3 separate regions of the Homo sapiens genome follow, and regions 1 and 3 are each linked to region 2. The links come from fine-mapping of genetic effects on gene expression. A gene starts in region 2. Each other region holds a variant in brackets. All regions are shown on one strand. Distances are from middle to middle.

The links. PIP is the estimated chance that this variant, and not a neighbour inherited with it, causes the effect. A credible set is the group of variants that fine-mapping cannot tell apart.
Region 1: its variant is the best candidate, but not a certain one, in a credible set for the expression of SNX13 in fibroblasts (GTEx, PIP 0.75).
Region 3: its variant is the best candidate, but not a certain one, in a credible set for the expression of SNX13 in atrial appendage (GTEx, PIP 0.75).

Annotation. Positions count from the first base shown.
Region 1 is chr7:17,675,804-17,678,569 of GRCh38, forward strand. No RefSeq gene overlaps it. Among named protein-coding and RNA genes, the nearest start is that of LINC02889, 120 kb to the left of the region's middle. The variant G/C (reference allele first, on the strand shown) is at 1,216.
Region 2 is chr7:17,938,958-17,941,723 of GRCh38, forward strand. SNX13 (sorting nexin 13) reads right to left here and starts at 1,537. Exons shown (of 26, transcript NM_015132.5): 1 at 1,327-1,537. The coding sequence starts at 1,338.
Region 3 is chr7:17,844,160-17,846,925 of GRCh38, forward strand. SNX13 (sorting nexin 13) reads right to left here. Exons shown (of 26, transcript NM_015132.5): 12 at 1,436-1,535. Among named protein-coding and RNA genes, the nearest start is that of SNX13, 95 kb to the right of the region's middle. The variant T/C (reference allele first, on the strand shown) is at 1,686.

The DNA.
Region 1 (2,766 bases), 260 kb before region 2:
GCTTACAAAATAAAACATTAGATAGATTCTGCAACGCCTCCCATGAAAGATTAATAGGAATGCTATCTTGATTGTAGACAGTATGAGAGTCGGTTGAAGAGGATAATTAACCAAGGTGAAATAACAACAAAAACATTCTGACTCAATAGCCTATAGTCAAAATCCCATACCCACTGGCTTTCTGATGTGTGCTTCAAATACAGTGTTAGTGCCTCACTATTTAAATAGTGACCATGGAATACATGGTGCACCAAAGAGATGCTTACACTAGTGAAAACGAACACTAATGAAATTTTACTGGAGGCCACAGACAACCACAATTATTGATTTTACATGAGATCTACTACTTATTAAAGCCTTTTGCAATTCTTGGACTTCAGAGGTTATCAAGAAACAGACTAAATCTCTCTGAATTGGGTCCTTTCAACAATTCTGATTACACTCACCTGATATTTCATTTTAAATTTCATGTTTATAAACACATTCCCCTCTCATTCTAAGACCAGAGGTCAGACATTAATTGCTCTCCAAGGATGGCTTTGCCCAATTTGGGAACGGGCCAGATTGTTGTGTTAGAAATTTTCCTCAGTCAACAACCTTTTTGAAAAGACCAATTCATAGAAGGCGTGGATACATTTAGAGAAAAACAGCTCTCTAAAGGATGTAAGAAGGGTATAAAAATCACTATAAACTCAACTATGTGTGTAAGAACATTTGCAACTGTACATTTTCCGTAAAATAATTTAATTTTATTATAAGCTCCCATTGGGCCATGCAGGTAGAAAATTTAACTCAGTCATTAAGGTTCCCTGTCCACCAATACCAACATGGGTCTGTGGCGTGCTTCCAAGATTCTATGCAGGTCCAAGATATCTTGAGGGTAGAAGAGGCCCTCTGGTTACACATCATCTATCCACACATTTTCTCACGTCTACAGATTGCTGTGAGGCCATTTTTCCACTGATGTGGGAAATTATTTTCTCATCTCTACCCCTTTCTCCCAGCCTAGAGAAATCTTTCTTTCCTTGGGAAGTAACTATTGTAGTTAAACATAAAGGATAACTCTAAAGAAATAAGGTTGCTTTCTGTATAATTCACACATCATTCTACACATTTAAAAAAAAAATTTACCAGAACATGAAATTGTTTCTAATGCTATAAAAAGGGAACAAGGCATCGAGGTTATGAACACGAACTGTGAGCCAGTCTGCCTGG[G/C]TTTGATATATGACCTTGGGAAATTTATTTTACCTCACTTTCTTCATCTGTAAAATAGAGACAATGCAACTATTTCAAAGGAGCTGTCACGAGGTTTATATGAGATAAACATATAAAGTATTCAAAACAGTACTTAGCATTTAATAAGTATTGTAACTATTGCCATTTTTATTTCTATAATAATATTGAAAATTAAAATATAAAAATGTATACAGGCTGAGCATCCCTAGTCCAAAACTCCAAAATGCTCACAAATCCAAAACTTTCTAAGTACCAACATGACAACATAAGTGGAAAAATTTACACCAAACCTCATGTGATGGGTCTCAGTCAAAATGCAGGCAAAACTTTGCACAAAATTATTTAAAATATTGTACAAAATTACACTCAGGCTATGTATATAAAGTGTTTATGAAACATAAATGAGTTTTGTGTTTAGATTTGGACTCCATCCCCAAGACGTCTCATTATGTACATGCAAATATTTCAACATCCAAAAACTTTTGAAATCCAAAACACTCTGTTCCCAAGCATTTCAGATAAAGAATACTAAGTCTGTATTTTACATTTTTTTGTACATTCAGTAAAGGACCTATTATGAATCATATGCTGAGGCTTCCATGATAAATAAGTTGGGAATGGATTAGCTAGACATGTCAAGATGCTTGGGATAGTTAAGCCCTTTGAAAGAGGTAACACAGGATGCAGTGAAACAAGGGTCATTTAACTATCTTAGAGGATGAGACTGGGTTTTTCAGGCGAAGAACAGAGGAAGTCTCTCTCAAGAAGAGTAGCAGCGTGTAAACTCTGGAAGTAAAAAGAAATACGGCTTATTTGAAAAATTGCTAAGCATAACTAGGAGATCAAGGCAATAGTCTTGCTTTAGAGAGAAATAAAGTTCAAGACAGAAGTAAGGGCCAAATCATCAAAGCCCTGTGTGCGCAGTGGTGTTTGCACTTCATCTTGAAAGCTCGGGGGAGCTATCAAAGAGCAATGTTGAGGATCAGATGAATGCAACAGGCATATGACTATGGAAAACAGAAGAATTGAAAGGATAAGGCTGGGTATGGGAACGATTCTCTGGAGTCCATGGCAGTTATCCTGGTGGGAAAAATAAAACAACTGAAGGATGGATTAAAGTATAGTAGTGGTAATGGAGCTAAAGAAAAGAGGAAAGCCTCAAGAGAGATTAAGGTCAAAAACATGATAAGTCTTATGACTTTGGGGCATGGGAGTGAAGAAGGGATTCATAAACACCCAACATCCTAGGCTGAGCAACTAAGTGGAAGGTAGACAGAGAAGCAAATCTGGAGAAAGTCCTCTGCCTAGAACCTCTCCCTGCAGAGAGCCCGTGACTCTCTTATTTACCTTGCTACAGTCTGGGCTCCAGGCCACCTCTCTGAGAGGGCTTCCTTGACTCTCCCACCTAAAATGCAAATACCGTCATCCTCCATTACCTTGATTAATTAGTGGTATTTTTCTTCAATGCATTCATCTGTTCCTGACAACATACTGTATTGTTTTCTGCTCATCTCGCCCATCAGAACACAA
Region 2 (2,766 bases):
AATTAACTCCAAGAATGAAAAATCTGTAGAATTTAGAAATATAAAATGAACTTCAAACAACTAAAAATACGTACTGTAGAAGTTACAATCAACCAGTAAGTATTTATCATATGCCAGGCTCTGTGCTTAGATTAAGTACAAACAGCAAAGTATAAAGTTCCTCAAAGTTAGTCACGTTCCAAGGACCTGAAATTTCAGGCAAGTACGTGCTTTACCATCACTTTTCACAAAATAAAAGCCACTCACCTACAAATGTTTGTATTTCCTTTTTGGCCCATGTAGGAATACTTCCCATTGCCCACTAAAACTGTTTCCTATTCAGTTCAGCCCATAAAAATGCCCAATCCGGTCAGTTCCTCACGTCAGGATCCTCACAGTACTTAAAGTGAAAGGCTTCGAAAAAGGTATTTCATCAAATCACAAGGTTCAGTATTTTATGTTCAGTGACACCTACACCTGCAGATACTACAACACATAACTGGGCTAACCTGGGTCAAGTACCTAGTTGCACCGATTTAGTTCTTCCCCTTAAAGTGTTGCTAGTAAAGGCAAACTCTACTTCTTCAAAAAGTCGGCTTTTTGCAATGCCCATTAGGCACTAGAAAAGGGAAATTGATTGGTTCGTCATAGTTGCCCTACTTCCATTTCAGGTCCAAAGAAAAAAACTATTCCATAGGGAGTAACAAGGGGGCCACACGCAAATCAAGGTGGCAGATGCTAAACTGAACTTTGTGATGACCACGATTTAACCGAAAAGGTGATGGATGTGGGGGAGGGGGATGACCCAACTGAGCCATACATGTGCAGCTTGAGATAAAAAAGTCCACTTCATGAAGCAGTCAAAGTAGAGGGTGGGAAACAAACCGGTCGGGCCGAGCAACAACCCCAGGGTGCTGACCGAGCTCGGAGGCGGAGGGCCCTGGAGCCCAGGGACCAGAGAAAGGAGACCTAGGGCAAACCATAGGATCACAAGAACCAGCAGTAACGTGGAAAGGCCAACGCTGCCACAGAGTAGCGTGTAAGGGGACACGAAGAAGGGAGCGATGAGTTAGAAGGGAGTGACAGCAGGAGGGAGACCAGTGCCAGGGGCGAGTGGCAAGTGGCAACTGCGAAAGGCGAGGCACTGGCAGCCGGAGGTGGTGGGACTCTGTTGAGTCAGCACAGCTCCTACTCTGAGGGCACTTGTAGGATCCCCGCTGCTCCTCGGGCCCTGGAGCCCACGGCGAAGGGTCAGGCCCACCTTCCGTACAGATGATGTTCTCTGACGGGCTGGCGCCGGCCCCTTCCCCATTTCACAGGTAAACACTGGCCACCGTCGCCGCTTACCTCAGTTAACATTATTACACCCCGGGGAAGTGAGGTCCTCCCTAGCCTCGCCTCATGGCAACAGCCGTAGCAGCAGCGAAAACTGCTCGGGCCGCCGCCAACGGCGGCAACTGCTCCTTCAGTCTTCTCCCGGGCGGCGGTTTTACTCGGCTTCGCTGGCCTCCCCTCGGCCCGGTCGCTCGCGACGGACGCGCCGCCATCTTGGAAGAGCGACGTCCGCGTCTCGCTGCAACGTGCGTTCCCATTGGCGGGCGCAGGGGCTGCTGGCGTCTCGTGACCGTCTCCATAGCGCCGGCGCGCGGAGAAGCGGAGGTAGGCTGTCGGCAGTCGGCTTGGCGCTGACTTGTAGGACCCCGGGACCGGGCGCCTGGGCCAACTTGGGACCGCTGGGAGTGCAGAGGGGCCCCAGCGCCCGAGCCTTCCGGGAATGGACGTGCGCGCCCTTGGGGCCGGCGCATCATCCACCGCCCACTAGCGTTGGCCCGCCCTGGGGAGAGGAGAAAATGCCAGAGGCCGACACTTGACTGATGGCGCTGCGGACCTCGCTGGTCTTGGGGACAAGGCGGCAGATTTCCTTTAGAAAAACTTCCCTCTCGCGTCTCCCTGGCCCCGCGGCGACCGAAGAGTTGGGGTTCGGCTTTCTTCTCCTGGGATTTAAGTGTTATTTGAAACAGCTCCCTGCGCGGCCCTTTTCTCCTAAACTTTGACAGAAACTTCCCTTTGTCCCTACCAATCCTCAGTGAGTTCTTTACAGGGGTCCGAGACAGGTTGTAGATATGATGCGGCTTATCGGCTTTACCCCGATCCTAGCGGAGTTAGGACTTGCTGATGTAATTGGCCAGCACCTGCCTAACAATGAAGGTTTAGTTATGCTACAAGTAATGCACCTCTAAAAAAACGTAAAACAGGCTTTACGTTTTACCTGCTATCTCCACAGGTTTACTAGCTGCTTAATACAATATGCTTGTATATCAAGGTGAGCAAATTTCAGCAAATGTCATTGTAAATAGTCCCAACTTAAATGGAATTGAACTCTGGAACTCAATGTGCATAGAAGTCCCTGAGACTGACGCCATTCTAGATCTACCACTAGATGGTTTGCGATGTACGGAATTAAAGGCAGTCACTTCTACCTGAATTGTGATGAAAGTAGTTTACCTGAACATGCTGGGAAAGTGTGCTACCCTGTTTTGTATTAGAAACCAGTTTCCAAGTAAATTGAAAAGCAAATTTTCAGACTTGACATTAAAAACACCTCCATGTCATTCTTACAAGAGGTACAAAAGCATTTTAGAAAACTAAAGCCAGGAGTTTCTTCCCTTTTACCAGAATCTTTTCCCTCCATTTAACAATAGTACTGTTGTGCTAAATGAAATTTACTTAATGTATTACTCTTACAGTCTCAAAACAATAAGGGCATTGCAAACCTTGTATTATCTC
Region 3 (2,766 bases), 95 kb before region 2:
AATTAACAAACATTTATCCAGGAGGACAAAAAGAGAAAAGACTCAAATTACTAAAATCGGAAGTGAAAGTGGGGATATTACTAATGACTCTACAAAACTAAAAGTACTATGAACAATTGTATGCCAATAAATCGGATATCCTAGTGGAAATGGAAAAATTCCTAGAAACAGAAAATCCACCAAAACTAAATCATGAAGGAATTGAAAATCTGAGGAGACTGATAACGTAGTAAGGAGAATGAATCAGTAACCAAAAATCGTCAATAAAGAAAAGACCTGGACCTGAATAGCTTTACTGGTGAATTCTATCAAACATTTAAAGAAAAGTAACACCAATCCTTTTTAAATTTTTCCAAAAAATTAAACAGGAAACACTTCCTAACTCATTCTATGAGGCCAGCATTATCCTGAAAACAGAACCAGATAAAGATAGTACAAGAAAACTACAGACCAATGTTCCTTATAAATATAGATGTAAAAATCCTCCATAAAATACTAGCAAAACAAATTCAGCAGCATATTAAAGAAATTATACACCATGACTAAGGTGGCATTTATTCCTGGAATCCAAAGATGGTTGAACATACAAAAAAAAAAAAATCAGTCTAATACAGCACAACAGAATGAAGGATAAACACCACATCTTAATTGATGCACAAAAAGCATATCACAAAATTCAACACATTTTCATGACAAAAACACTCAATAAACTAGGAACAGAAGGCTACTATCTCAAAATAATAAAAGCTGTATCTGAAAAATCCCACAGTGAATAATATACTCAATGATGAAAGACAAAATACTTTTCTTTAAGATCAGGAACAAGACAAAGATTAAGATCAGGAACAAAAAGATTAAGATCAGGAACAAGACAAAGATGCCTGTGTTTGCCACTTCGTTTCAACATAGTACTGGAAGTACTAGGCAGAGAAATTAGGAAAAGTGGAGGGAGGGGAGAAGAGGTAAGGGGAGAAGCAAGTGTGTGCGTGTGTGTACACACACACACACACACACACACGAATATTATTCAGCATTAAAAAGGAAGGAAATTCTCACATATGCTATAACACGGATAAAACCTGAGGGCATATCCACGTTAAGTGAGTAAGCCAGTCACAAAAAGGCAAATACTGTACAATTCCACCTACGTGAGGTACTTAAGAGTAGTCAAAATTATAGAGACAGAAAGCAGAATGATGGTTGCAGGGGTTGAGAGTGTGAGGAATGGAGAGAGTTGGTGTTTAATGAGTAGAGTTTCAGTTTTGGAAGATAAAAACAGTTCTGGAGACTCTGTACAACATCATGAATACATTTAATATCACTGAACTATACACTTAAAAATAGTTGAGATACTAAATTTTATGTGTATTTTACAATAAAAAATCGAAAAAGAAATTCAATGGCTGTATCATTTAAATAGAATTGATCTACCTACCCATAAAAAATTGTAGTGCAACATTGTCTACAAGAATGCTGTCCAGGGGGACTGTGCAAAGTTTCCCAAAGTTTGCTGCAAGTTTCACAGTATTTATTTCCTACAGGCAAAAGTGAATATAAGTTAATATTTTATCTAATCATTCATTGTTAAAGATGTGTACATAAATATAAGGAAAAAAATCAAGCTAAAACGGAGTAAAGATGAAGTTTTTCCCTTCTCATGCATGTTGTTTCCCAATAGATATACA[T/C]TGTGTGAATTTAAATTCCTAGTTAAGAGTTGCTTAGCAAATTAAAAATATTAACACATTAAAAATAATAGCATTCAACTGTTTCAATATAAAATAAATAGAAATCACTATATTTTCAATTATTCTCTATCTCTATATATTCCAAATGAAAATGAACATTCCAAAGGCTAAAAGGGTGAAGGAAATGGTTAATATACGCAAGAATTTTAAAAACTCAACATTTTCATGTATAAAGTCTATTTACTACTAGGAAAACAAAATATGCCTAAAGAGTAATTTTGCTCCTAACTCAGTAAAATCTCTAATTATTAGATAAAATGTGTTTTTTTTCCAGACTCTCTAAACAGTGAATTTCAGACATACTTTTCAAAGTCACAGAGCAAGGAAACAACCTACATATGAAAAAAAAAAAGGGAAAAATTGCGTCCAAAATTTAAAGAGCATCTACGTATCAGGCTTTGGGCTAGTTACATTACAGATATTACTTCATTTAATCCGCACAGCAATCCTGTTGGATATGTATCACCACGTCTACTTAACAGACAAGGAAAACGAAGATGAAAAAGGTTGCCTATTAAGTCACAAAGCCGGTAAGTATGACTACATGTTTTCAAATGCTGCTGCCCTTTCCAATAAGAGCCATGATGTTTCCATGAATTATTTATTTTCACTGGCTTCTCTATATTCCCAAATTCATATTTCAGAACCCTCTATTTAAAAAAGAAAGATAGGCAGGTTTACTGTAAATGAAGTAGGCTGCCATATTCAGAGGCAGATACTAAATTAAGCATAGGTGGTAAATAAAGGAAAATGTAGAGAATTAAAAAAAAAAACAAATCCATCTCTATAATTTGTATTTTCCTTCATGTAAGTACTGAATAATAACAGCTAACTGACTTTAGATGTCTGGTAGAGAGCAATCTAGAGGCAGCACATGATTCCTACTAAGTCTCCCTTCTTCAAATTGTATCACCTCTTTCTCCTGCCCAGCAGCGGCTCCACAGATACAGGATGGAAGGAAAATTCGCTGAGGATAAAGGTTTCTAAGATTTCAAGATAAGTAACATGGCTATATAACTGC